3 linked regions of the Homo sapiens genome follow. The protein of the gene in region 3 purifies or fractionates together with the protein of the main gene of each other region. This does not show direct contact. Each region holds a gene or a part of one and is shown on either strand. Other genes may lie near its edges.

What was found.
Region 1: the proteins of FBXO11 (region 3) and KIF2C purify together in Homo sapiens (co-immunoprecipitation; 2 studies listed by BioGRID and IntAct, with this or other methods). This does not show direct contact.
Region 2: the proteins of FBXO11 (region 3) and GAPVD1 purify together in Homo sapiens (co-immunoprecipitation; 2 studies listed by BioGRID and IntAct, with this or other methods). This does not show direct contact.

The regions. Positions count from the first base shown.
Region 1 is NC_000001.11:44,756,103-44,764,160, forward strand, and holds part of KIF2C (kinesin-like protein KIF2C), read left to right. Parts: coding exon 1-135; intron 136-1,453; coding exon 1,454-1,544; intron 1,545-1,805; coding exon 1,806-1,869; intron 1,870-1,946; coding exon 1,947-2,038; intron 2,039-3,103; coding exon 3,104-3,246; intron 3,247-4,177; coding exon 4,178-4,382; intron 4,383-4,489; coding exon 4,490-4,600; intron 4,601-5,813; coding exon 5,814-5,881; intron 5,882-5,932; exon of another isoform or gene 5,933-6,005; intron 6,006-6,243; coding exon 6,244-6,349; intron 6,350-6,442; coding exon 6,443-6,556; intron 6,557-8,058. UniProt on the Homo sapiens protein: In complex with KIF18B, constitutes the major microtubule plus-end depolymerizing activity in mitotic cells. Regulates the turnover of microtubules at the kinetochore and functions in chromosome segregation during mitosis.
Region 2 is NC_000009.12:125,264,092-125,272,149, reverse strand, and holds part of GAPVD1 (GTPase-activating protein and VPS9 domain-containing protein 1), read right to left. Parts: exon of another isoform or gene 8,049-8,058; intron 3,215-8,048; 5' UTR 3,166-3,214; intron 1-3,165. UniProt on the Homo sapiens protein: Acts both as a GTPase-activating protein (GAP) and a guanine nucleotide exchange factor (GEF), and participates in various processes such as endocytosis, insulin receptor internalization or LC2A4/GLUT4 trafficking.
Region 3 is NC_000002.12:47,806,420-47,813,006, forward strand, and holds the end of FBXO11 (F-box only protein 11), read right to left. Parts: intron 4,008-6,587; coding exon 3,897-4,007; intron 3,683-3,896; exon of another isoform or gene 3,580-3,682; intron 3,289-3,579; coding exon 3,181-3,288; intron 2,848-3,180; coding exon 2,739-2,847; intron 2,168-2,738; exon of another isoform or gene 2,104-2,167; intron 2,009-2,103; coding exon 1,910-2,008; coding exon of another isoform or gene 1,829-1,909; coding exon 1,699-1,828; 3' UTR 501-1,698; downstream 1-500. Other genes in the region: DNA mismatch repair protein Msh6, read left to right, coding at 33-232, 360-441. UniProt on the Homo sapiens protein: Substrate recognition component of a SCF (SKP1-CUL1-F-box protein) E3 ubiquitin-protein ligase complex which mediates the ubiquitination and subsequent proteasomal degradation of target proteins, such as DTL/CDT2, BCL6, SNAI1 and PRDM1/BLIMP1.

The sequences.
Region 1 (8,058 bases), on a different chromosome or scaffold from region 3:
TTCCATTCCTAGCAAGTGTCTCCTCTTGGTACATGAACCCAAGTTGAAAGTGGACTTAACAAAGTATCTGGAGAACCAAGCATTCTGCTTTGACTTTGCATTTGATGAAACAGCTTCGAATGAAGTTGTCTACAGGTTAGTCCCTTGCATCCATTTTTCCCTCCTTGTGCCCTTCCATCCCCTTTTTTTGTGGGACATCGTGGTAACACTACTCACAGACGTGCTGAATTCTGAGGCTCTTCCTCGCTTCTTGTGTTTTCTTTGGGTCACACCCTTTGGCAGCTTAGTGGCCCATCCTTGAGTGGATACTGAATGAGGTATCACCCGTTACGTGCTGAGGCAGGGCTGGCCAGGCTCCAGGGGTTCTTCTGTGCCTTATGCAGCCACACCATTGCCCACTGGGGTTCACAGATTTGGGGAACTCCAGATCTGCTCTATCTGCTTTTTTTTTTTTTTTTTTTTTTTTTGAGACGGAGTTTTGCTCTTGTTGCCCAGACTGGAATGCAGGGGCACAATCTCGGCTCACTGCAACCTCCGCCTCCCAGGTTCCAGCGATTCTCTTGCCTCAGCCTCCCACATAGCTGGGATTACAGGCGCCTGCCATCACACCTGGCTAATTTTGTATTTTTAGTAGAAACAGGGTTTCGCCCTGTTGGTCAGGCTGGTCTCAAACTCCTGACCTCAGGTGATCCGCTCGCCTTGGCCTCCCAAAGTGCTGGGATTAAAGGTGTGAGCCACTGCACCTGGCCCCAGATCTGCTCTTTCTAATACAGCACCCAGTACCCTCATAGGGATATTTACTTATTTTATTTTTATTTATTTATTTGTTTTTTGAGACAGAGTCTCAGTCAGTTGCCCAGGCTGGAGTGCAGTGGCGAGATCTCAGCTCACTGCAACCCCCGCCTCCCAGGTTCAAGCAATTCTCCTGCCCCAGCCTCTCAAGTAGCTGGGATTACGGGCACGTGCCACCACACCTGGCTAATTTTTTGTATTTTTATTAGAGACAGTTTCACCATGTTGGTCAGGCTGGTCTCAAACTCCTGAGTTCAGGTGATCCACACACTTCGGCCTCCCAAAGTGCTGGGATTACAGGCGTGAGCCACTGTGCCCAGCCAGTAGTGTCTCTTCTGCTGGAAGCTGGATGCTGAGCTTAGGCTTTTATGCTGTGTCTCCAGGGTCAGAGGAAAGGTCAGATGGCTTAGAGTATGGGCCATCAGCTTGCTTCTGGTTAGTCGGCCCAGTGATCCCCCAACACCCATCCCACTGCCAGTTTGCTAGGAGTATTTCAGATTTGTAAAGTGGGGTTGGGGTCAGGTGGGACCACTGAGGCAGGAGAGGAGTGCTATTCTTAGAAGGAGGAATCGACCCTAGAACTCTGCAGTGGAAGGGTGGCAGGACATGTTCCAGGGAGCACAGTTTGGGAACAGATACAAATACTCTACCCCTCTTCTAGGTTCACAGCAAGGCCACTGGTACAGACAATCTTTGAAGGTGGAAAAGCAACTTGTTTTGCATATGGCCAGACAGGAAGTGGCAAGACACATGTGAGTATTGAGGCCTGGCGGGGAAAGAGCCTTTCCCTTGTGCACCCCTGGCTCCCTATAAAGGGAGACAATGAGTTTGTTGAGAAAGGCCCCTTGTTACAGATGCCCCATCACCAGATAGCCTTGCCATGTCAGATGCAGGGAGGGGCTTTAGGTCCAGCCTTCTGGCTTTGTTGTGGCCCACTGTAGTGAAGGAGCCAGTAGTGCTCTGCTCTAGGCCAACAGCCCTTTTCCATGGTCTTCTACCCCTTCCCTTTGCAGACTATGGGCGGAGACCTCTCTGGGAAAGCCCAGAATGCATCCAAAGGGATCTATGCCATGGCCTGTAAGTACTGTGTACTGCTGCTTCAGGGTTGGGCACAGAAAGGCAGGTTGTTTGCTTAGCAAAGTTCTCTCCCTCAGCCCGGGACGTCTTCCTCCTGAAGAATCAACCCTGCTACCGGAAGTTGGGCCTGGAAGTCTATGTGACATTCTTCGAGATCTACAATGGGAAGGTAGCTGGCAGGAAGCCCCTTGTTTACACTGTTGGGGCCCAGCACTTTTTAAAACCTTGAAGCTGGCTAGAAGTTGAGGCCAAAAACCTATTAGCTGATTAGCTGTCAAGCCACTGATGGGCCATTCTGCCCTGGCATACACATGTAGGTGGTTTAATCTGATGGTGAGATGGCACCTAAGTTCAAGAAGTATGGCAAGAATACTCCTCAGGGCGCCCTTTCAGGTGCAAGGTTTGCCTGTGTGTGTCCTGACCTCCCTCGGCCGACCTCCTTCATCCCTTCTTCCCCGATTGTGCACGTTCAGTCTCATATTCATTCTTTCCCTGCCCGCACCACCATATATCTCTTCCACCCCTCTCTCTATTCACTGTGTGCTTCTGCAGAGTTGCTTTCCTTAGAGTGGGATCTAGATAATAAAAATAGCTAATATTTATCATTAATAAGATATTAGGGGCCAGGCGTGATGGCTCACACCTGTAATCCCAGCACTTTGGGAGGCCGAGGCGGGCAGGTCACCTGAGGTCAGGAGTTTGAGACCAGCCTGGCTAACATGGTGAAACCCCATCTCTACTAAAAACACAAAAAATTAGCTGGGCATGGTTAGGGGCACCTGTAATCCCAGCTACTCGGGAGTCTGAGGCAGGAGAATCGCTTGAATCCAGGAGGCAGAGGTTGCAGTGAGCCGTGATCGCACCATTGCACTCCAGCCTGGGCGATACGAGCGAAACTCCGTCTCAAAATAATAATAATAATAAGATATTAGGAGCTATGCACTATTCTAAGCACTACCTGTCTCACCTTTACAGATGAGATGCAAGGCTAGAGTGGTTATTAACTTGCCCAGGCTCACACAGCTAGTAAGTTACCAGAGTCACAGCAAACTGAGGCAGTTCGGCTCAGATCCCAAGTATATTGACCTCTGCTAGGCTGACATCCATCAGTTCGTATTCTCTGCCTTTCCTGCTGCTGGCTCTTGTCCGAGCTGGGCAGGCTAGTAGGAGGAAGCAGTCGGGTGGGGTGCCGGGTGCCCAGTGGCCTTAGCCTCATTCCCCCTGCCTGGCACAGCTGTTTGACCTGCTCAACAAGAAGGCCAAGCTGCGCGTGCTGGAGGACGGCAAGCAACAGGTGCAAGTGGTGGGGCTGCAGGAGCATCTGGTTAACTCTGCTGATGATGTCATCAAGATGATCGACATGGGCAGCGCCTGCAGGTGAGAGTCCTGGTGAGGGGAAGGAGCGACCTTCTCATGTCTGGTTTATGAGTAAAGTCTAGCTCTGAGCACATTTCTGTTTACCCAGAGTGCTGCTTTGCCCAGTTTGGTAAGGGCTGCGAAGGCCTCTGCTTTACGGGGTCTCAATAAGACATATGACCCCAGGGCCAGAGGCTTATCAGAACCAAGTCAGGTCAGGCACAGTGGCTCACACCTATAATCTCAGCAGTTTGGGAAAATGAAGCAGGAGGATCACTTCAGGCCAGGAGTTAGAGGTTGCAGTGAGCTGTGATCGCACCACTGCACTCCAGTCTGCATGGGCAGAGCAAGATCCTGTCTCAAAAAAATAAAAATAAAAACAAGTCAAAGTGTTACCCCAAAGGCATGCTTCCTGGCTTCTTTGGGTTCTCCTTGCTCTTCCCTCCCTTTGTGGTGGAAGTCGGGAGCTCTGGGTCTGTTCTGGGCTGGAAGTAATGGGTTCATACCCCCTCTGCACAGAATTAGGGGAGCACTTTTCCACTAGGGCTGTAGACATTGGTACAGTGGGGCGCTACGCAGCTATAGAGGCCCAGGGAGGGGGCTGCCCTCTACAGGGTCCTCAAGTTCTGGCAGGTGGTTCATGACAGCTTCCCCCTTCCCTTTGGGCCCTTTAGCAGAGGGAATTTATCCTTCCCCGTGTCCTTCTAGGGCTCCAGGTCTGACAAAGGCCCTAGTCCAGAATCCAGTACTAATTTGGCTGCCAGGAAAATGTATTAGGTCCAGAGCTGGAGGGAGAATTGCTACCCAGGGAGGGCAAGATGGAAGCCTGGGACAGGAAAACAGGACTTTTTCGCCTCCTAACCTGTGTCCCTCCCTTCCTAGAGAACTTCTGTGGACTTGGGTGCCATGGGGGCTGGTGACCACAGAATCTCATAACCTTTCTTTACCACAGAACCTCTGGGCAGACATTTGCCAACTCCAATTCCTCCCGCTCCCACGCGTGCTTCCAAATTATTCTTCGAGCTAAAGGGAGAATGCATGGCAAGTTCTCTTTGGTAGATCTGGCAGGGAATGAGCGAGGCGCGGACACTTCCAGTGCTGACCGGCAGACCCGCATGGAGGGCGCAGAAATCAACAAGAGTCTCTTAGCCCTGAAGGTAGTGGGGCAGCTAGAGCTGGTTGGCCGGGAGAGCTACTGGGAAGGGATGGGGAGGGATCAGTGCAAGGAAAGAAGGGACCTCAGTTGTTCCTGCTGCCCCCACAGGAGTGCATCAGGGCCCTGGGACAGAACAAGGCTCACACCCCGTTCCGTGAGAGCAAGCTGACACAGGTGCTGAGGGACTCCTTCATTGGGGAGAACTCTAGGACTTGCATGGTGAGTAGGGTCACTTTGAAGGTGATGGTACAGGAGGAGACAGAGTTGCTTTCCACAGAGACACTTAGTCCTGTCCCTGGGCTGGAAGCTCAGCACTGCTGGCTGCCTGGGTTTCCAGGCTGTACCGTGACTGGGCTTCCAGACCCTGCTTTAATGCACGAGACTCCTTGTGGCCTAACCAAGCGTGGAGGAAAGGATCTATTCCCTTTAAGATGTGTAGGTGCAGCTCTTGGTTTGGGAGAGGTCATTCCTGCATTACCTGATGAAAAGGGGGTTCCAGAATTCGGAAGATGGGCCTTTGGGTCAGCAGGAGAGGGAAGTCCTTGTCTTTTCCATGGCCTCCCTCAGGTTCACTGGCTCCCAGCCTAGAAAATAGAAATAGCCTGGATCATAAGGCTGTGTCCTTGAATGACGTCCTCTTTCCTGTTTTATCCCCAAGCCCCTGTATGTGAGATCTGCCATCCTTCCCCTCAAGAGAATATTCTCCCCTACCCTTTGGGTAGGAGTCCTTTCATGAGGAAGGTGGGATTTTCTGACTAAGCTCTACCTAAGGCATTATCCTTTGGCCTAAGGGAACTGAAGTTTCCAGCAGAAGCCACAGAGCTTTAAGATAGGACCTTGGGCTGGGCGCGGTGGCTCACGCCTGTAATCCCAGCACTTTGGGAGGCCGAGAGGCAGGTGGATCACAAGGTCAGGAGATAGAGACCATCCTGGCTAACATGGTGAAACCCCATCTCTATTAAAAAATAAAAAAAATTAGCCAGGTGTGGTGGCAGGTGCCTGTAGTCCCAGCTACTCGGGAGGCTAAGGCAGGAGAATGGCGTGAACCTGGGAGGCAGAGCTTGCAGTGAGCTGAGATCGCACCACTGCACTCTGGTCTGGGCGACAGAGTGAGACTCCGTCTCAAAAAAAAAAAAGAAAAAAGAAAAAGATAGGACCTTGGTAGCAAGACTGTCTCAGTGAAGGAATAATGAAGCAAAAGATAATTAGATGTGTCTTTGAAAGCAGGAAACCAATGTCTGAGGCACCTTAATTTGCAGTGCCCATGGGGCAAGTGGCCTAGCACAGCGCGGTGCTAAATGACTCCTCCCACCAATACCATGTGGGTCTCCAAAGCTTGAAGAAACACCCTGACTGGAGGCCCCTCAGGGACAGGCTATATAGCATCCTCACCGTGCCTCTCAGCCTTTAATCACCCACCCCTCTTTTGCAGATTGCCACGATCTCACCAGGCATAAGCTCCTGTGAATATACTTTAAACACCCTGAGATATGCAGACAGGTACTAGTACCTACAGCTAGGTGGGATGCGGAACAGGACTGGGCAAGGGAAGGGCAGTGATGAGAGGGGAGGAGGCTCTGGGGCCTCAGGGCCTACTGTATACTCCTCTGTGACTCTGAACCTGAGGCTTGGGAGTTCCGCCGTGATGCTAGGTCTGTCCCAATCCTCTCCGGGCCCTGCTGGAGAGTCAGCTGGGTGAGGGGCTTTTCCAGTCCAGCTTTAGTTTTCTCTCTCCTTGGCTGAAGGCAAGGTTGCCATTCCATCCCCTTGGAGCCTCAAGCCTCGAAGCCTGGGCGGTGCCACATTCCTCTGGTGAGTACCAAGGGGGTGCTGTGGGATCTGAGACCTCCTTGTTTCCTCAGGGTCAAGGAGCTGAGCCCCCACAGTGGGCCCAGTGGAGAGCAGTTGATTCAAATGGAAACAGAAGAGATGGAAGCCTGCTCTAACGGGGCGCTGATTCCAGGCAATGTAAGGACCAGGATGCGGCCAAGCAAGACAGAAGTGTGGCCTGCTGAGGCGGCACCTGGGTCACATAATTGTCTTTCTTTTTGGCCCTCTCAGTTATCCAAGGAAGAGGAGGAACTGTCTTCCCAGATGTCCAGCTTTAACGAAGCCATGACTCAGATCAGGGAGCTGGAGGAGAAGGCTATGGAAGAGCTCAAGGAGATCATACAGGTAGGCAGCTGGCCCTGGACAGGGAGCTGGATGCAGCACGGCCCTCAGTATGCTCCACACCATTCCCAGAACATGACCTGGGCCTTGTTCCCACAGGTATTCACATAGCAAGAAGCAGCCCTCTACACCAGCACTCTTTAATTCTTTGCCTGTTAACCCAGCTGTTCTTCTAATTATCACAACCCCTTCTGCAGGTTGGCACACATAGGCTTTCTGACATCACACTAGCCAGAGCTAGTCTCTCCTCCACGCTCCTGATAGAGGATTTGAAGGGTGATCCATATGCAGGGATCTTGTCTTGTGTTTTGGTGAATGTTGCAACTCTTGTGCTGAATCCAAGGGCCAAAAAACATGAAGTATAGGTAATAGGCCCTAAGGGTATGACTTGAGATCAATCCTGTCTCTTCCATTCACAAACTGATTTCCTTGTGAAATTCATTTAGCCTCACTGGGCCTCAGTTTTTGCATCTCTGAAATGGTCAAGGTAGGATGGTTGTATTTGAGCGTTCAGTAATATGCTTATAAAGTGTCAGCACAGTACCCAGTGTGTGGTCAGGGTTCAGTAACTGGTAGGTGCCCCTGCTACTGTAATCCCTACTGTGGAAGAGCAAGTGACTGGGAGGCAGGAATTTACGTCCCAATGGTGGGGCGCTCAGAGGATTGCAGAGCAGGAAGGAAGAACTTGGGGCAGGTGTAACTGAGGAGGGACTGTGAAGGGTAAGTGCTCAGGCCTCTCCTCCCCTTCCTGGAGTGCTCAGGGGTACAGAGTTTTGTAAGCACATGGCACTTTCAGGATGAATGAGAGGCTCACCGTGGTCAGAGCAAAAGGAGTGAACAGGTGATGGAGGGTAGTTAAGGCTGTGGACAGGTCAACAGGGATCTGATGCTAGAGTCTTCTAGATGGTTCATCTCACAGGCCTGGACTGCATCATGAGGAAGCCTTTGGAGGGTGTTAAGCAGAGTGGTGACATGGGCATGTCAGAGCTTTAGATATATCATATGGCCACCATGTGGAGCCTGGTTTGGGGGCTTGAGAAAAGCAAAGGTAGAGGCAGTTAGGAGATTGTTGGAAAGGGTTCAAGAAAAACTATTGCCAGCCAGGCGCGGTGGCTCATGCCTGTAATCCCAACACGTTGGGAGGCCGAGGCGGGTGGATCATGAGGTCAGGAGTTCGAGACCAGCCTGGCCAACGTGGCGAAACCCCATGTCTACTAAATACAAAAAATTAGCCGAGTATGGTGGCGGGCGCCTGTAATCTCAGCTACTTGGGAGGCTGAGGCAGGAGAATTACTTGAACCAGGGAGGCAAAGGTTGTAGTGAGTCAAGATCGTGCCACTGCACTCTAGCCTGGGTGACAGAGCAAGACTCCATCTCAGAAAAAAAAAAAGAGAAACTAGTGCCTAGACCAAACTGTGTCCGTGTTCATGGGATTGGAATGAGGACATGAGATTCATGAACCATTTAGATATACAAGCATGAAAATCTTACAAGGTACCCCCCAA
Region 2 (8,058 bases), on a different chromosome or scaffold from region 3:
CAGGTGGCTGAGGCAGGAGAATCGCTTGAACTCAGGCAGCAGAGGTTGAAGTGAGCCGAGATCATGCCACTGCACTTCAGCCTGGGAGACAGAGTGAAACTCCATCTCAAAAAAAAAGAATTAATGTAGTTTTTCCAAAGTTTTTCTGGTACAGAAATCTATATTTTTAAACATTTGGCAATTCAGCCTTAAATGTTATAACTTTTAGACCTAATGCATTTTTGTAAAGTAGCCAAGATAATGGAAGTAAGTAAATATAAATAACACAAGTAAAACAAAGGGATAGATTAGAATTCTGCATTAGAAAGTGAAAGGAGGGCCAGGTGCGGTGGGTAAGCCCAGCACTCGAGGCAGGTGGATCACTTGAGGTCAGGAGTTCAAGACTAGCACGGCTAACACGGTGAAACAACGTCTCTACTAAAAATACAAAAATTAGCCAGGTGTGGTGGTGGGTGCCTGTAATCCCAGCTACTCGGGAGGCTGAGGCAGGAGAATCGCTTGAACCCGGGAGGCAGAGGTTGCAGTGAGCCAAGATCAGGTCACTGGACTCCAGCCTGGGCAAGAGAGCAAGAGTCTGTCTCAAAAAATAAAAAATAAAAAAATAAGTTAATCTAAGTCCGAAAAATATAAGTATTTGTTAAAATTAAGATTGGCAGGATATTACTACACTCTGATCCTAGGAAAAAGGAAAAAGACTAATATGCCTTGACTAATTTTGTTTTGTCTTTTTTCTGATAGAAAAACCACGTGGGTTTAATCCTTCCAAAGATTCACAGAAAATAAATAACAACACATAAGTTGGTAAGGAAAAAAAAAAGAACTAAACACGTCTGACAACATGCTTTCTACTAGTCTCCAGCGTGGGTGTACCGGCATTATAAGGGAGCAAGACCAAGCAAGCACCTTTTCGGACAGACATCTTAGATTAACAAGCAGACACAGTATCTGTTTATACACTTCCAAGAGTATGTTTAAAGCCTGTATTTTTTAAATGGCTTACAAAAAAAGGTATACAAAAACATAATTTTGGCCACACACACACACAAAGAGTATTAGAATTAAATTATACTTTTATACTTTTCTTTCAGACACAAGCATTTATCAGGTATCTGGTTCATCTTCAAACTCAAAAAAAAAAATTTATAGAAACCCCTATGTAGTCTGTTAAGTCCTTCACTCAACCATTCTTTTTTATTTTTTGAGATGGAGTTTCGCTCTTGTTGCCCAGGCTGGAGTGCAATGGCACGATCTCGGCTCATCGCAACCTCTGCCTCCCACTCCCAGGTTCAAGCGATTCTCCTGCCTCAGCCTCCTGAGTAGCTGGGATTACAGGCATGTGCCACTACACCTGGCTAATTTTGTACTTTTACCAGAAACGGGGTTTCTCCATGTTGGTCACGCTGGTCTCAAACTCCTGACCTCAGGTGATCCACCCGCCTCAGCCTCCCAAAGTGCTGGGATTACAGGCGTGAGCCACTGCGCCCGGCCTCAACCATTCACTTATATATATATTAAATATTAGAAACTGAAGTATCAAGATATTCACCACTTCCTCTGACCACTGTATTAGAGTTTTAAACTGGGTTTCAGCTTTGAAACAAAAAATAACCACCCTTCTGAAATTTTTTACAAAATCATAATACATATTGAAACATATCCAGAAAAGTTAGAAAATATAGGTAAGCATAAAGAAGGAAAGATTCTTTTGTTTTTGTTTTTTTGAGACAGACTCTAGCTCTGTCACCCAGGCTGGAGTGCAGGGGCACAATCTCAGCTCACTGCAAACTCTGCCTCCCAGGTTCAAGCAATTCTCCTGCCTCAGCCTCCCAAGTAGCTGGGACTACAGGTGTGCGCCACCACACCCAGCTAATTTTTGTATTTTTAGTAGAGACGGGGTTTCTCCATGTTGGCCAGGCTGGACTCAAACTCCTGACCTCAAGTGATTCGCCCACCTCGGCCTCCCAAAGTGCTAGGATTACAGGCATGAGCCACCATGCCTGGCCAGCAGTAAAGTTTAACTGACTATAATCTTAGTTACCAGAAATCAAACAGCTAGGTGCCTAAAACTTATTCTAAAATGTGTATACAGTAAAAAAAATTATTGGTCCTAGTTCCTTTACAAATTAAAACATCTGCCCAAGCATGGTGGCTTGCACCTATCCCAGCACTTCCAGAGGCCAAGGCGGGCAGATCACTTGAGAGTAGGAGTTCAAGACCAGCCTGGCCAACATGGTAAAACCCCGTCTCTACTAAAAATAAAAAAAATTAGCTGGACATGGTGGCAGCCACCTGTAATCCCAGCTACCAGGGAGGCTGAGGCAGGAGAATCACTTGAACCTGGAAGGCAGAGGTTGCAGTAAGCAGAGATCATGCCACTGTACTCCAGCCTGGGCAACAGAGTGAGACTCTGCCTCCAAAAAAAAAAAAAAAAAAAAAAAAGCCAGGCATGGTAGCTCATGCCTGTAATCCCAGCACAGCGGGTGGATCACCAGAGGTCACGAGTTCAAGACCAGCCTAGCCAACATGGTGAAACCTTGTCTCTACTAAAAATATAAAAAATGAGCAGGGCATGGTAGCACCTGTAATCCCAGCTACTCGGGAGGCTGCACTCCAGCCTGGGCGACAGAACGAGACTCCAACTCAAAAAAAAAACAAGAACAAAAACTAAAATATCCTGAAAACGATTACTTAAGGAGTTAAAGTTGAAAATAATTCTATGCAAGCACAAGTTTAGGTAGTTCAAGTGTAAAAAATACATAACTGAAATCCTTCTTGCTTAACAGAAAATTAACTCCAGAGAAGGAAATATGTATGACAAAAAAACAGCCTCCCAAAAGTTGAAGGAAAAAAAAACACTCAACTAAACATTTGAAAATTATTTTTTCAAGTACTAGTCTGTCCAAAGCAAATAAGAAGGACTCAGCTGGGCAAAGTAGCATGCTCCTGTATTCCCAGCTACTCAGGAGGCTGAGGCAGGAGGATCGCCCTGTTCAGGCCAGGAGTTTGAGGCTTCAGTGAGCTATGATGGCACCACTGCACTCTGATGACAGAGTGAGAATATGTCTCAAAAAAAAAGGATTCCACTTACATAAAACTTAAAAATTTGTAGCTGTAGGCAAACTTAAAAAAATTATTTTAAAAAAATATTTTTAAATCATACTTTACCTTTGAGATTCCTAGAATGTATAACCAACTCTCTCCAGTACACTTACCCCTAAAGAAAAAAAAAAGGAAAAAGGAAAAAATAATAAACTGAATGTCTTATCACTGGAATGTACCTACTTTCGCTATTAAACTACCTACAAACATTACAAGTAGCTGGGCGCAGTGGTTCATGCCTGTAATCCCAGTACTTTGGGAGGCCGAGGCAGATGAACTACTTGAACTCAGGAGTTTGAGACCAGTGTGGGCACCTCTACAAAAACTACAAAACTTGTATTTAAAACTCGTCTGGTCAAACAAAAATAAAATACAAAATACAAGTTAGCCAAGCATGGTGTCATGTGCCTGTGGTCCCAGCTACTCAGAAGGCTGAGGCAGGGGAATCTCTTGAGACAGGGAGGTGGAGGCTGCAGTGAGCTGTGATAGCGTTACTGCACTCCAGCCTGCATGACAGACCAAGACCTTGTCTCGAAAAAAAAAAAAAAAAAAAAACAATGTTAGGGGTAATTATTCCAAATAAACTAATGAAACTGAAGCATACATTTACAGAGCAGCAACTTTTGTATTGTTAGTTGCACCAACAAAAGATCAGTACATATTGTCACAATTTCCAGAACGCCATGATCAGGTAGTGTTACCATGTAAGGTAATAAGAACTATGTGCCATCACTGGAGACCAGCTCACAAACCCTCAGTGGAGCCAGCTGCGTAAAGTGAGAAGTGACAACATTGTGACGGTGGCTAAGAAAGCACCAGTAGAATAAAGTTCTTGGTTTTTTTTTGGGGGGGGGGGTTGTTTGTTTGTTTGTTGTTGTTTTTTTTTGAGACAGAGTTTTGTTCTTGTTGCTCAAGCTGGAGTGCAGTGGCGTGATCTCGGCTCACTACAACCCCAGCCTCCTGGGTTCAAGCGATTCTCCTGCCTCAGCCTCCTGAGTAGCTGGGATTACAGGCGCGAGCCACCACGCCCAGCTAATTTTTTGTATTTTTAGTAGAGATGGGATTTCATCATGTCGGCCAGGCTGGTCTCAAACTCCTGACCTCAGGTGATCCACCCGCCTCGGTCTCCCAAAATGCAGGGATCACAGGTGTGAGCCACTGTGCCTGGCCGAATAAAGTTTATTTTAAATTCTAGCAGCTAGGCATAGTGGCTCACGCCTGTAATCCCAAAGCTTTGGGAGGTCAAGGTGGGAGGATTGCTTGAGCCCAGGAGTTTGAGACCAGCCTGAGGAACATAGGGAGATCCTGTCTTCCCAATAAAAAAAAAATTCTTTTTTTAATTGGTCAGGCATGGTAGCTCACCCCTGTAATCCCAGCACTTTGGGAGGCCGAAGCGGGCAGTTCACCTGAGGTCAGGAGTTCAAGACCAGCCTGATCAACATGGTGAAACCCCGTCTCTACTAAAAATACAAAATTAGCTGGGCATGGTGGCACATGCCTGTAATCCCAGCTACTCGCGAGGCTGAGGCAGGAGAATCAGAAGGCAGAAACTGCGATGAGCTGAGATTGTGCCATTGTACTCCAGCCTGGGCAACAAGAGTGAAACTCCATCTCAAAAAATAAAAAACTAAAATTAATTAACCGGGTGTGGTAGCACATCCCAACCTACTCAGGAGACTGAAGTGGGAGGACAGCTTGAGCCCAGGAGGTCGAGACTGCAATGATCCCTGATAGCGCAACTGAACTCCAACCTAGACAACAGAGCAAGACCTTGCCTCAAAATTCAAATTCCTAGGCTCAAGTAATCTGACCGTCTCGGATTCCCAAAGTAAAATGTGCATCTTCTATGTGTAAAGTAAACATGGCAAAATGTTAACAGCAAATCTAGGTGAAGGGTATATGAATGTTTACTGAACAACCCTTCTGTAGGCTTACAATTTTTCAAAGAGTTGCAAAAACAATATTTAGAAGTTATGGATTACAAAAAAACAAAGCCTGCCGGGTACAGTGGCTCATGCCTGTAATCCCAGCCCTTTGGGGAGGCCGAGGCAGGCGGATCACAGGAGTTCAAGACCAGGCTTGCCAACATGGTGAAACCCCATCTCCACTAAAAATACAAAAAATTAGCCAGGTGTGGTGGCACGTGCCCATAGTACCAGTTACTCAGGAGGCTGAGGCAGGAGAATCTCTTGAACCCAGGAGGGGGAAGTTGCAGTGACTTGAGATGGCGCCACTGCACTCCAGCCTGGACCACAGAGCAAGACTCTGTCTCAAAAAACAAACAAAAAGAAAAAAACAAAACGAACAGCAGAAAATAGGGAAAGATACAAATAATAATTTAGCACGTATATTCTGCCTCCCAGAATTAGCTGTTGTCACAGTAGTGTCTAGTCTCAAAAAAAAAGTATAGATATCCTCAAAAGAAATTATAGATAACGGGCTGCGCGCGGTGGCTCACGCCTGTAATCCCAGCACTTTGGGAGGCCGAGGCAGGTGGATCACAAGGTCAGGAGATCAAGACCATCCTGGATAACATGGTGAAACCCCGTCTCTACTGAAAATACAAAAAATTAGCTGGGCATGGTGGCGGGCGCCTGTAGTCCCAGCTACTTGGGAGGCTGAGGCAGGAGAATGGCGTGAACTCGGGAGGCAGAGCTTGCAGTGAGCCAAGATCACGCCACTGCACTCCAGCCTGGGCGACAGAGCGAGACTCCGTCTAAAAAAAAAAAAATAAAATAAAATAAAATAAAATAAAAATTAGCCGGGCATAGTGGTGCATGCCTATAATCCCAGCTGCTCGGGAAGCTGAGGCAGGAGAAATGCTGGAACCCGGGAGACGGAGATTGCAGTGAGCCGAGATCGCGCATTTGCACTCCAGCCTGGGCAACAAGAGCAAAACTCCACCTCAAAAAAAAAAAAAAAATTATAGATATCATCCCCTTTGCCACTACCTCCCATTCATAATCCCTTATAGACGTGAAATTATAGAGTACGCCTATCTTCAACTTTACTAAGGGCTGCAAATACTGTCTTCAAAAGCAGCTATACCAGTTTACACTCAACCAACAGTTTTTTTTTCCTCCTCCTAACAGTAACCGGTAGCAGTTTCTTTTTTTTTTTTTTTTTATAAATTTTTTCTTTTTTAATAGAGACAGGGGTCTCACTTTGAGGCCCAGGCTGGTCTTGAACTCCCGGGTTCAAGGACTCAAGTGGCCCTCAAACTCCAAAAGTGCTAAAATTATAGGCATGAGCTACCACGCCTGGCCAGTAGTTTCAAAATTACCATTTTTGCCACATCTTCACCAACATTTGATATCGTCAGACATGAAATTTTTTTTTTGGCCGGGCGCGGTGGCTCACACTTGTAATCCCAGCACTATGGGAGGCCGAGGTGGGCAGATCACGAGGTCAGGAGTTCAAGACCAGCCTGGCCAATATGGTGAAACCCCGTCTCTACAAAAAAATACAAAAATTAGCCAGCCATCGTGGCACCCGCCTGTAGTCCCAGCCCAGGAGGGAGACTGAGGCAGGAGAATCGCTGGAACCCGGGAGGCAGAGGTTTCAGTGAGCCAAGATTACACCACTGCACTCCAGCCTGGGAGACAAGTAAGACTCCCTCTCAGAAAGAAGAACAGAAAAAGAAACAATGCCAGGTGTGGTGGTGCCGACCTATAGTCCTAGCTACTTGGTAAGGCTGAGGCAGGAGGATCACTCAAGTCCAGGAGTTCAAGTCCAGCCTGGGCAATGCAGCAAGACCTTGTTTCAAAAAAAAAGAAGGAAGAAGAAAGAAGGAAGAAGAATGAAGAGAAATAAAACAACCTAGGATCACACAGTAAAAGGTAAAAGAACCTCAGCAAAACAAGAACTTCACTTACAGACTTTCCCTTTTATTACCTCATACAAAATGATGAATAATCAAACCTATATGGCAGCATGTACTAAGAATGATTAGTCCCCATATGAAACCAAATGCTCACAAAAGCACAACATAGTGCTGGGAAATAATTTTTTGTCTTTTAAAAAATGTAAGATGGCCAGGCGCGGTGGCTCACGCCAATAATCCTAGCACTCTGGGGGGCCAAGGCGGGCAGATCACTTAAGGTCAGGAGGTTCGAGGCCAGCCTGACCAACATGGTGAAACCCCGTTTCTACTAAAAATACAAAAATTAGCCAGGCATGGTGGCAGCACCTGTAGTCCCAGCTACCTGGGAGGCTGAGGCAGGAGAATGGCATGAACCCGGTAGGCAGAGCTTGCAGTGAGCTGAGATCGCGCCACTGCACTCCAGCCTGGGCGACAGCCTGAGACTCCATCTCAGAAAAAAAAAAAAAAAATCCACCTCCATGATTTAAAGAAAACCAGCAAACAGTAAAATTTCTTTTCTCAGGCTTACATTAGAGCTTACAGAGCTGCAATCCCTTGGAAGTGGGGAGGTGCCTTAATACAAAAATTTAAAGGCCAACATATTCACTTTTCTTTCTTCTTCCGATTATTTTGTTCATTCCCCATTACCCTGAATGAAATATCTATGGTCTATTCTTTCAAAATGACTACTCTGGGCAGGACGCGGTGGCTCACATCAGTAATCCCAGCACTTTGGGAGTCCGAGGCAGGCAGATCACCTGAGGTCAGGACTTTGAGACCAGCCTGACCAACATGGTGAAACCTTGCCTCTACTAAAAATATAAAAATTATCCAGGCGTGGTGGCTGGTGTCTGTAGTCCCAGCTACTCAGGAAGCTGAGGCACAAGAATCGCTTGAACCCAGGAAGCTGAGGTCGCAGTGAGCGGAGATCATGCCACTGCACTCCAGCCTAGGCAACAGAGCCAGACTCCGTCTCAAAACAAAACAAAACAAAAGACTACCCTGATCCCATCCAAATTTTTTATCTCCCTGATTATGAAATTCTCTTTCGTCTACACTGTCATCCTGTCTGCCTTCAATGATTCAAATGTTCTTCT
Region 3 (6,587 bases):
CACATGTATCGCTAATATTTTTCTTTCTTAAGGCATGCATGGTAGAAAATGAATGTGAAGACCCCAGCCAGGAGACTATTACGTTCCTCTATAAATTCATTAAGGGAGCTTGTCCTAAAAGCTATGGCTTTAATGCAGCAAGGCTTGCTAATCTCCCAGAGGAAGTTATTCAAAAGGGACATAGAAAAGCAAGAGAATTTGAGAAGATGAATCAGTCACTACGATTATTTCGGTAACTAACTAACTATAATGGAATTATAACTAACTGACCTTAAGTTTCAAAGAAACAGTAAAAGGGGAAGGGATGATGCACTATGAAAAAACAAAAAAACTTTTTTTTTTTTTTTTTTAATTTTAAGGGAAGTTTGCCTGGCTAGTGAAAGGTCAACTGTAGATGCTGAAGCTGTCCATAAATTGCTGACTTTGATTAAGGAATTATAGACTGACTACATTGGAAGCTTTGAGTTGACTTCTGACAAAGGTGGTAAATTCAGACAACATTATGATCTAATAAACTTTATTTTTTAAAAATGACCATTTTTCCATTTTCTTTCTAGGAAATTAAACCCTTTTAATTCTTATCTACCTTCTACATAATGGTTATTGAATACTCCACAATATATTAAGTCTAGATGTTATGGTACATGCATACACTTTCAGGCTGTTTTATACCCACTGTCACCAATACACATAAATGGGGGAGGAAAAGCTATGAAACTGTATAGGGCTGTATATATACTTGTCTCAGCTTAATGCAGGAAATTGGTTTAATTTCCAGCAGTTTTGTCTAAACTGTTCAAAAAAAAACTATGAACAGAGTTCAAATACAGGACTGTTTGTTTTGAAGAGACTTTCTAAAGTGTACTTAAAACATAGTAGTTTTTTACCTTTCACAAAACTGAGTTACAAGAATACTTTTGTTTTACAGTGCATCCCTTCCTAGGAAGTCTCATTAAAACACTCACTTTTTCTAGGGGTGATTTTGAATGCTGCACAGGGAAGGGAAGGAAATAATAGTCTTAACTTTTCTTAAAGGATACCAGAAACATTGCTGGATATAATTTAAGATTAGTGTTTTCTCTTTCATAGAAAGAACGTACATACTGGGACATGAGTACAGTTACAGCAAGTCTAGGTGTGCTAACAAAACAGGGCACATTCAAGTACAGTAAGATTTTGCTTGAAATTAAAAACAAACTACATGAGATTAAAGCATTAAAATCATATTTCTCAATCTGAATACATGTTAAAAAAAAAAAATCAAAAGGAACGCAGAAGTGCTAGCTCACATTTTTACCATATTACAAAAGCAATTGGTACCCATGTCCATAAAGGCAGCAACAAAGCTGCTTGTCTATTGAAGATTACTACTGCAAATTGGACTGCATTCAATGCTAGTTGTAAAAACACCAGCTTTTCAGAAGTTGGTATCTGTACAAAATTGCAGCTTATTTTCTTCACTTCTGTCCCTTCAAGTCTTTACACAGTAATGCTAAAACACCCAGCTTTGAGATCCTGAGTCAATATATTGCCACTTTCTTTTTGGTAGCTTGAGCTTCATAGTGTCAACTGACCTTGTGTATCCATTTTTAATACAGTCTCTTCCTGTAGCATGGGCAAATATTTTAAATCTTCTTCCAAAAAAGTGTTTTAAGTTATGATGTTACAATGGCAGGACTTTTTCTTTAGGGAAGGAATTCAGTTGTGCTGCAATGTATTAGATTCTATAGGTGGAGCAGAGTCATATAGTGTATCTGTATCATGTGTAGGCTCACCAGCTAATGTACAAGGATTAGACAGTGTTCCAGCACCACAGTCACAGAAAAACCTAAAGCAAAATGAAACCCAAATATTAGAAAAGTGAGGGGGAAAGTAATTGGGTAATATATCAAGCAAGTGTGCTACATACCTATCATGTCTAATAAACTCTACATCATGTCCCTGATGGCACTTCTTAATGCAGTTCACACATATGGCATTTCGATCTGTGGTGTTACAAGTATGACATCTAAAAAGCAAAAGCTTAAATTACTTTTCTCAAACATGTCATTAATGCAAAACATTCCATTCTGTTTATATATTACTATGACCTTTGGCTTTAAGAGGACCAAAACAAAATTCTTTGTGGCTCCAGCCCAGATTAATTCTGAAAAGGAACTTTAATGGAGTAAGTGATTTTCCTGTCATCTGTGTCTTCGGAGGGAAGAGAAATGATTTGTAAATTGTATAAAGGCAGTTCTTTCCACTTTAAAAGCCTCTCAAATGTTTCTGGGCTGAAAACAATTTTTGGAGGCGTGAAGAGTCAAAACTGTCACAGTGACTGGGATATATCAAACACTTAACCCCGACATCTTTACCTTGAAATTTCTAGGAAAACATTACACAACATGAGTTACATGAATGACATCAGTTACTGTAGCATTAGGTTTTTCCATAGTTATGGTCTTTGTTTTGTTTTGTAGAGACAGGGTCTCCCTATGTTGCCCAGGCTGGTTTAGAACTCCTGGGCTCCAGTGATCCTCCCACTTCAGCCTCCCAAAGTGCTAGGATTACAGGCATAAGCCACCACGCCTACCCACAGTTACAGTCTTAAACACGATCTTCAAGTAGATTGATGATAAAATTTTCAGTTAGTTATAGTCTCAACACCGGCAAATAGCCAAAAATGCTAGGCATTGCTAATTTAAAAAGGAAATCAGTCTTCCTCTTTTCAGGACTCAAATATATTTCTAAGTTACCTGTAGAAATCATGCATGGGATAGCTGGTATAACTTGATATTTTATATAAACATTGGCCTCTACTAACAGCCTTTTCTATGGCATCTTGATTGTTCATTATTTTGTTATCTGTAATAAAAGAAAGAATAAGTAAAAATTCAGAGGAATGTTAATATTTTAAAAACCAAAGATTATAGGATTATTCTAACAGAAGAGCCACTATTTTTAAGAGCTTTAAATGAAGCTAACCAATGAAGTAATTGTAAGAAATCAGCTAAGAATAGAATTTTCCTTGTATAAGATACTCCAACCATTTAGAACCAAAGCTCTGTTTCTTTCAAAATCTATCTTAAACTGTTGCTAACTTGGAGAGTGACATAAGGAATCAAGTTATAAAACGGCTTCTGATTATCTTTCATGGCATATTGCATATATTTATAGGTATAGCAGACTCCAACATACCTTTCATTGTCACATTAACACCAGATGCTAAAAATAAGCCTCCAAACCGGTTGTTAAAAATCTGATTGCCTTCTAGTGTTGCAGTTGCGTGATTTGTAATTTCAATACCTGAAGTAAAATTTACAAACAAGTAGATACATCACTTTATACTGCTTCTTAAAAACCTGAAATTAGCAAGCAAATGTAAACTGCTTCTTTTATAGAAGTACATTAACCCTCTTAATGTCTACTGAATAAAATGTAGATACCTATTTCAACCACCAACAGTAACATTCACTTATCAATGACTATGGTCAAAACTGCAATTAACTTTCGCACCAACCTAACTGTCTTAAAGTTTAAATACATGATACTTGGATTTCATTTGCATCCATTTTAACATCTCTTTTTCTGTTGCAGATTTAAACTGGTAAATTCATCTGAGGAATTGAATCTATCTGTATTCCTAGTGGTAATACAAGCCTGCATTTATTCTATCCCAATAAATGTTTCATAATCACGACTAAGCAATAAGAGCAATATTTCTTAGGAGTCTGGCTTAGAGTAGAAGAATCCAGAACTTGATTAGGTGCTCTTGTAAGTGAATGAACAGGCATTCAGCCACTTCAGCACACTTTGCACATTTTAGTTAATAAGCAAAACAAAATGAATATACTCCACATCAAACACTTTGCAGAACTATATATAAGCCACAGGTAAGAAAAGAAAATACAAACCTGCGGCAAATCCATCAAATATTCTGTTTTTCCTTAAGATTGGATGACTATTAGTGCTGATGAGAACACCTGCTTGAGCATTCCTGAAAATATCATTTTCTTCAAGGAGACCTATAATAAAATATTTCCTTAGATTAAGGCTAATGCATATAACAGACTACTAACCTTTTTGGTGGTATTTAGGTTTGCTTTTAGTTTCTTATTTAACTGCATGGTAAAATTCACAGGACTATTTTTTCAGCCAAAACAAGTTTATTAGCAATTCAGAGGTATTAAGGATCTAACAAAATTGCTACAATGACAGGTAAGAGCATTCTGACCAATAATCTGCCATCTCCATGATAGCAGGGTCCATGTCTAAGTTTACTCAGCACTTCATCTTCAGAGCCAGGTGCATAGGTGATTCTCAATGAGTATTGCTGAATTAAAGCTAATTCCTTTGAAATATTTCTAGAACCTTTGTATCCTCTTTGTTTTTAGTTCAGGCAAGCAAGCCCTTATTTCTGGCCCTTATTACTATAATCATTTCCTGATGAGTTTCCTTTATTCCAGTTTCATCTGCTGCATAGTTTCCAATCAGTTAACTGCAACTCTTATCATGCCTCTTTCTCTAACAAACTACTTTCAGAATAAAGTTTAATATCACCTTGCCTTTCAAAATATCCCTCCAACCTACTTGTTTGTCTTAATGTGAGACATGGTTTTATTTCTGTAGACATTTAATCCCTCTGGTATTTCACATTATTGACCTAAACTTTCACCTGGATGAGTGGGAAAAATCTGACTCAGTAACTTCTTGGGGTCCTCCTCCTGTTCACTCCCTGGGTATTAATATTTCTGGGTTCTGTCCCTCATTTCCCTCTGCATACTCTTTGGGTGATCTTACATCTTGCAACTATTGCATATACACTGTTGCTTTTTAATTTTTGAGACAGAGTCTCACTCTGCCACCCAGGCTGGAGTGCAATGGTGTGATCTTGGCTCACTGCAACCCCTGCCTCCGGGTTCAAGCAATTCTCCTGCTTCAGCCTCCCAAGCAGCTGGGATTACAAGCACCTGCCACCACACCTGGCTAATTTTTGTATTTTTAGGTTTCACCATGTTGGCCAGGCTGGTCTCAAACTCCTGACCTCAAATGATCCACCCACCTGGGCCTCCCCCAAAGTGCTGGGGTTACAGGCATGAGCCACTGCACCCGGCCACTGTTGCTAATTCTTTAATCTATTCCTTTAGCTTAGTATAATGAATCACATTCTGGTCATAACCAATTTGGATATTCCAGAAGACAACCTTGGATTCAGTGTTTAAAAACTGACCTTACTAATGTTTTCCAGAAACCATTTCCTATATAACTTACCTCAGTGAAAGGTAGTCACCCACCCAAATCAGAATCCTGAGCACCCATCATATTTCACTTTACTTTCAACCCCCATATTAAATCAATGACCCAGTCCTGTTGGTTCCACCCTTTTTATAGAGATACGGTCTTACTACATTGCCTAGGCTGGTTTCCAACTCCAGACTCAAGTGATACTCCTGCCTTAGCCTCCAGAGCAGCTGGAAGTACAGGTGTGAGCCACTGTGCCCAGTTGGTTCTGTCCTTTTAAGTATCATTAACATGTCCCACCCCCTGCCCCCCCAACCTTTTCACACCCTTATGCTATCATTTTAGTTTAGGCTCTCATTATTTATTGCCTGAGTTATTCCAAGTCCCTGTCTCTAATCTTGATTATTTCCACTACACCTCAAGTGCTATTGCTAAGATGGATTCCAAACTCCTTACTGCATATGGAAAACCTCATGATTTGGGCCTTGCCCCTTCTGTAGCCTCAATTTTCTGTACCTCTTCCCTTACTTTCAGTTTCCTCTAGACTTTTGTTTACGATGTGCTCCACTCCATCACACTATACATTTTATGGATGTGCTGTTTCATTTAGCATATCTCTAGCATCTGTATCATAGTAGTTGGTACAGAGGTGTTAAATCAGTATCTAAAGAATAAAAGTGAAATAACATCTGGAATGGTCTGTTCGCCTCTCCCAAACCCAATTGCCAGTAAATATCTACTCATTTTTCAAAACACGGCTCAAAAGTGATTTGACTTGCGTGAACCATTTCTCAACACCTTGCAAATAAACCATTCTGTATTGTGTGTCTTCACTATATTTTGTGAAAACTATCTGAGATACGTCACTTTACTGAATTACTAGATTATAAGCTCCTGGAGAGTCTGTCAATGGAATCATCACTGCTTGGCTGTGGTATTAAATTTTGTTCATTAAATCTTGGCATGTTAGAGTAATAACTAGCTATTCTATGTAAGATATGTACAAATGTTGGGTTATTGACATTTCAGGAACAGCGATAGATTTGCATTTGGCAGCTCTGTGAATCTCTGTATACATGCATCTGTAAGGGGCAGGCACTATGGAACTTTTGCCTCAATGCAAAGTGAGTTGACCTTTATGAATACCAAACCAGGCACATCTTGGCTTCATTAATTCCACTCTCCAACAAACACAGTTGAAAACAGTTACAAAAGCAATACCCGTTTACTAAAGACATTTTCAGATATTTACAGATCAATTTCTCACATCTATTTCTATAACTTGACTTTGAAGTTTATTATAATCATATTACTATTCTGAATTTTAAAAGGTCCAGAGAATGTAAACAAATTCTATCTTTAAA